2 separate regions of the Homo sapiens genome follow, and region 2 is linked to region 1. Evidence: fine-mapped expression QTL. A gene starts in region 1. The other region holds a variant in brackets. All regions are shown on one strand. Distances are from middle to middle. Region 1 holds the start of YJEFN3 (YjeF N-terminal domain containing 3). Region 2 overlaps NCAN (neurocan).

Region 1 (2,823 bases):
GCCTCCCCGCCCCCCTCCGCCTCTTCCCCCAGCAGCACCCTGGCCCCTGAGGTCTGTGCTGCCTGTGCTCCCCCGACCTAGCCTGGTCTGACCTGAGTGTGGGTTTCGGGCTTTCACAGGCGCCTACAAATCGAGGACTTCGAGGCTCGCATCGCGCTGTTGCCACTGTTACAGGCAGAAACCGACCGGAGGTAGCACCGCAGGGGCCAAGGTTGGGAGGTCACTGGCCGGAAGGCCCCAGGCTGCAGGGCCTGACCTGCATCCCCGAAGGTGGCCAGAATGCACGTGGGGGCCATCGCCCTGTGCCGTCAGCTGCATCCTCAGGCGTGGAGACTTAGTGGAGACCCAAGGGGGCGAACCGGAAGGCTTCCTGGAGGAGGAGGCAGCACTGGGGTTGGGGCAAGAGAAAAGCTAGGAGTTGGCTGGGGGAAAAGGAGACAGGGTCGGAGGGAGGCTTGAAGGGGTGCTACTAGGGGCCCTAGGCAGGGGCCCCTCAGGGCACTGAGGCCCCACCCCCACCATCGGCCCCATCCCCACAGGACCTTGCAGATGCTTCGGGAGAACCTGGAGGAGGAGGCCATCATCATGAAGGACGTGCCCGACTGGAAGGTGGGTCCCGGCTGGGAGGGCAGAGGTGCCAGCCACGGCAGAGACAGGGCCTGGGGTTGGGGAGCTCCCACAGCTTTCTATAGAAACCCCAGGACCAAGGGGGTGGTGGGTGCCAGGTCCCACAAGGGAAGGCTGTAGCGCCTGCCACGCACAGGGGCCACTGATCCTGGGGGATGGGTCCTAGCAGGCTGTATATGGGTGGCTGTGCCTCTACCCATACCCCACTGTCCCCACAGGTGGGGGAGTCTGTGTTCCACACAACCCGCTGGGTGCCCCCCTTGATCGGGGAGCTGTACGGGCTGCGCACCACAGAGGAGGCTCTCCATGCCAGCCACGGCTTCATGTGGTACACGTAGGCCCTGTGCCCTCCGGCCACCTGGATCCCTGCCCCTCCCCACTGGGACGGAATAAATGCTCTGCAGACCTGGCCTGCCTGTTTTCCTGGGGACTGGGGGAAAGAAGGGGGAGAGGGCCCAGCTAGGCACCACCGGATCACATGTAGCATGGGGACGCAGCAGATATGCACAGGGTGACCTCAAAACACACCTAGGGGCTGCCCCTGGATCCACTGGCGGCCTCCTCTCTGCCTCCGATATACCTGGACTCTCCTGCCTCCCTTTTGAAACCATGCCTGTCAGCAGCCCACTTACCTCTCCAGGCTGGGGGCCCCTGGGTCAGCTTTGGGTCAGACCTTCTCCACGGAGGTCTGGAGAGTGGGGGGAGCCTTGACCTCCCGGATACAAGTGATCCTCCCGCCTCAGCCTCCCGTGTCACTGCGATTACAGGATTACAGGCGTGAGCCACCATACCTTGTGCAGCCCTGCCAATTGTAGGCATGGCGAGGGTATTTGTCTGCGGAGGGGCTCCTCGCTCCCTGAGAGGGAAGCTCAGAGACACGGGGATATCTGCAGGGAAAGTAAGTCGGGGGAAGCAACCAAGATTGGCCAGGTGCCTCTGCTGTGGGCTCCTGGCACGAAAGGGTGAAGTCCGTCTGAGTCCACCGACCAATGGTGACGCGCAGCGCCTTCGCGGCGCTTCCTGATTGGCGGGCATGCAGGGTGGGCGGGAGGGAGGAGAAGAGGGGGCGTCCCCTCCCTCCACGGATGCGCTTAAAAGGCGGTGGCGGTGGCGGCAGCGCCCGGCGCCCGGGCTCACCTCGGCCATGAGCAGCGCAGCCGGCCCAGACCCGTCGGAGGCGCCCGAAGAGCGGCATTTCCTCAGGTCAGCTGGGGAGAGGGAAGCTGGAGACGGGCATGGTTCCCATGGGGCCAGGAGCAGCCCGTAGGACCGGAGGCAGGGTCATAGCTGGGACAGAATGGGGTCCGGGGACTGGAGACGGGCACAGCCGGGATGGAGGTTCAACGGCAGAGGCATGACCACGGTGGGGAACCGGAGGCAGGGATATGGCCAAGACGGGCCTGGGAATCCCGGGAATCCGAGACCCTCCTGGCATCTTGCTGGAGACACTAAGCTGCGTTGCTGGGGAAACTGCCTCCGGGGCAGCCCGCCCCTCATGAATGATTCATCAGCAGCGCTGGTCGCTCCCCCACCGAACCCCAACCGTGGCCCACCCCCACTCTCCATCTCTCCCAGGGCCTTGGAGCTGCAGCCCCCACTTGCCGACATGGGAAGAGCGGAGCTTAGCTCAAATGCTACCACCTCCCTTGTCCAGAGGAGGAAACAGGCCTGGGGAAGGCAGTCATGGCTAGAGCAGATTTGGAACGCAGGGCCTGTTTGCCAGAGGTTGGTGAGTTTGGGATCTAGAACTGGCGCCGTGGCTGTGACTCTCACCTCATCCTCCTCAGCCTTTGTGACATGGGACCCCAGGCAAGGCTGTTGACCTCACTGTGAACCAGATGCGTCCAACAGCTCCTGCCCACTGCCCACCTAGCAGGGCACGTGTCCCCTCAGCCGATGTCCAGACTCAGTCTAGGGAAGAGTGTTTTAGGAGCTGTGACTTCACCTTGGGGTGAAGGGGTGAGGTGAGGGGGGCCTCAAATGCTAAGTGAGGGGAGTGAGGGGGCTCTCAGGGGTGGGTAGGAGCTAGAACGTAGTGGGGAACTGGCTGACGAGGCTGGAGACACAGAAGGGCCTCTTAGGCATGGTGAGGAGTTTGGAGTTTGAATGTTCCCAGAGCCCTCGGGAGCCATCAGCAGGTTTGGGACCCGGTGATGCAATCTGGTGTTCGAGTTTTCAAAGCCCCCCCAGGCTCAT
Region 2 (2,895 bases), 290 kb before region 1:
AATGAGAGGGGGTGTCAGGGAATGATCTCCCAGTTAAATCTCTTCCAGAAACAAAGAAAAGACATTAAGATTTGGCCAGTGTGGTGGCTCACGTCTGTAATTCCAGCATTTTGGGAGGCTGAGGTGGGCAGATCACTTGAGGCCAGGAGTTTGAGACCAACCTGACCAACATGGTGAAACCCTATCTCTACTAAAAATACAAAATTAGGTGGGCGTGGTGGCGCACGCCTGTAATCCCAGCTACTCAGGAGGCTGAGGTGGGAGGATTGCTTGAGTATGGGAGGCGGAGGTAGCAGTGAGCCGAGATTGTGCCATTGCACGCCAGCCTGGGCGACGGAGTGAGACCCTGTCCAAAAAAAAAAGAAAAAAAAGAAGTCAATATGGGAGGTGAAAGGGTTGGGAGAGCAGAGCCTCAGGAGGAGGGGCCAGGCATGGGGAGAGGGGTGATTTCGCCCCGCAGTGACCTTGGATTGGGCCCTCTCTCTGGTGGGCTGGCTGTGCTCATGGCTGGTAGGCCTTGGGCCAAGGCCAGCCCCCCCTCACGCTCCTATCCCATCTCCCAGACACCGAGGGCTGTGACCGCGGCTGGCATAAGTTCCAGGGCCACTGTTACCGCTATTTTGCCCACCGGAGGGCATGGGAAGATGCCGAGAAGGACTGCCGCCGCCGCTCCGGCCACCTGACCAGCGTCCACTCACCGGAGGAACACAGCTTCATTAATAGTAGGGGCTCTGGGGAGGGGGCCACCTGCCTGGAGGGTGGGCAGGGGTGGCACTTGTAGCCCTTTTGCCAGGGCATCGCATCCCTCCCCTGGTTTTCAAGACGTCATCTTTCCAAAGCTGTGTTCATTAACGCAAGCCCTGACTGCTTCTTAATGCATGAAATCTGTCAATTCACTTGTTAATTCATACATTCACTTCATTCATTCATTCACCAAATATTTACTGAGCACCTGCTATATGCCAGGCACCATTCCAGGAATATTGACACAGCACAGCAGCAATCAAGGCTGACTTTGCTTTGTCCCCAGGGAGTGACCATTTCTTGGGGAGGATATAGACAAACAAGTAAATATCTAAGTAAATAAGTCTATACTGTAATTCAACAGATCCTATGTGTGCTGATAACAAAACAGGGCCAGGAGATGGAGGGTGATGGGAGAAGCACCTGTAATGTGTTCAAAGACCTAGGAGAGAGACAAGTGTTCCATTCATGTAATCCGGGACTTATTGATTTATTCATTATCCCTCTGCCTTCTGCTCATCCATCCATTTATTCTGTTTATTCCGTTTGCCACCATCCCATCCCTCGTGACTCCTTCCTTTCTTCCTTCCCTGATTTGTTTCTTTTTCCTTGATGTATCCCACTGGGCCTCTCCCTCCTGAGCGACTGGCTCGCGCCTTCTCACCTATCTGCCCGTCCAGCGCCCACTGGCGTCTCCTGTCCCCTACTTCTCATTTCTGCAAAGATGCAACAGTGCCCGGGTTTACTCCTGCTTCTCCTGGCCACAAACCCTGGGATAGCCTGGGCCTACTTCCGGTTCTTCCCATGCCTCACCCCCCTAAAAGAGGGTAGCCAGAGTCCCCACTTGTGGAGGGTGGGGT[G/A]AGGATGCACCTCCAGCCTACACTGAGGCTGGGAGAGGGGTTCATGCCTGCCCCCTACCCTCCTCCTCCTTCCTTTCCCTCCTACCTCCCCATCTTCCCTCCCACTCCTCCCCCTCCTCCTTCTATACCTCTTCCTCCCTCTTCCCCATCCTCCCTCCCCCTCCTCTCCCTCCTCCTTCCATTCTTTCTCCTCCTCCCTCCTACTCCTCCCCTTCTCCCTCCTCTCCTCCCCTTCCTCCTTCCACTCATCTTCCACCTCCTTTCTCCTCTCCATCCTCCCTCCCCTCCTCCCTCTCCTCCTCCCATTCCTCCTCTTCCTCTCTCCTCTCCTCCCCCTTCCCTCCCCCTCCTCCTTCCACTCATCTTCTTCCTCCTTTCTGCTCCTCATCCTGCCTCTCCCTCCTCCCATTCATCCCCTCCTCCCTCCTGCTCCTCCCCAGGCCTCCTCCCTTCTACTCCTCCTCCTTCTCCTTCCTCTTCCCCTTGCTCTTCCTCCTCCCTTCCACTCCTCCTCTTTTCTCCTCCCCATTCATCTCCCACTCTTCCCCCTCCTCCCTCCAACTCCTCCCCTCCTCCTTCCATTCATCTTTCTCCTCCTTTCTCCTTCCCTTCCTCCTCCCTCTTCTCTCCTTCCTCCCTCCCATTCCTCTGCCTCCTCCTTCCACTCATCTTCCTCCTCCTTTCTCTTCCCCATCCTCCCTCCCACTCCTCCCCCTCCTTCTTCCACTGATCTTTCTCCTCCTTTCTCCTCCCCCTCCTCCTCCCATTCCCCCCTCCTCCCTCCTGCTCCTCATCCTCCCTTCCATTCCTCCTCCCTCCTCCCCATCCTTCTTCCCACTCCTGCCCCTCCTCCCTTTCACTCCTCCTCCTTTTTCCTCCCCCTCATCTCTCTCCTTCTCCCTTCCTTCCCCCTTCCCTTCTCCAGCTCTTACAGAGGTTAGGGAGGGCATCTGTGTACTCCCTCACCTCTGTAAACTTCACTTCTATCTCCTTCCCTCTCCACCTCAACCTCCAGCCCACCTCCAGGCTGGGGAAGGGGCTGAGTCTTCCCCTCCCATACATACCTCACCCGGCCCCCAGCCCACAGAGAGGCTGAGGGAGGGGCTCTGGGTCCTCCTCCATCCCTGTACCTGCTTCTTCCCTCTTCATTTCCACCTTCTAGATCTTTCCCCCCACCCAGCCCACCTCCAGGCTGGGGAAGGTGAGGAATTCTTTCCTCCCACACCCTACCCCACCTCACCTGCAGCCTGTGCCCTGGGCCAGGAGAGGCATGGGTGAACACCCAGACCCA

The links. PIP is the estimated chance that this variant, and not a neighbour inherited with it, causes the effect. A credible set is the group of variants that fine-mapping cannot tell apart.
Region 2: its variant is the best candidate, but not a certain one, in a credible set for the expression of YJEFN3 in tibial artery (GTEx, PIP 0.67).

What each region holds. Positions count from the first base shown.
Region 1 is chr19:19,527,162-19,529,984 of GRCh38, forward strand. YJEFN3 (YjeF N-terminal domain containing 3) reads left to right here and starts at 1,750. Exons shown (of 7, transcript NM_198537.4): 1 at 1,750-1,830; 2 at 2,203-2,352. The coding sequence starts at 1,772. NDUFA13 (NADH:ubiquinone oxidoreductase subunit A13) reads left to right here. Exons shown (of 5, transcript NM_015965.7): 3 at 120-191; 4 at 540-609; 5 at 846-1,037. The coding sequence ends at 965. RefSeq lists enhancers at 1,009-1,509, 2,485-2,823.
Region 2 is chr19:19,237,690-19,240,584 of GRCh38, forward strand. It overlaps NCAN (neurocan), which reads left to right. Exons shown (of 15, transcript NM_004386.3): 11 at 564-722. Among named protein-coding and RNA genes, the nearest start is that of HAPLN4, 24 kb to the right of the region's middle. The variant G/A (reference allele first, on the strand shown) is at 1,605.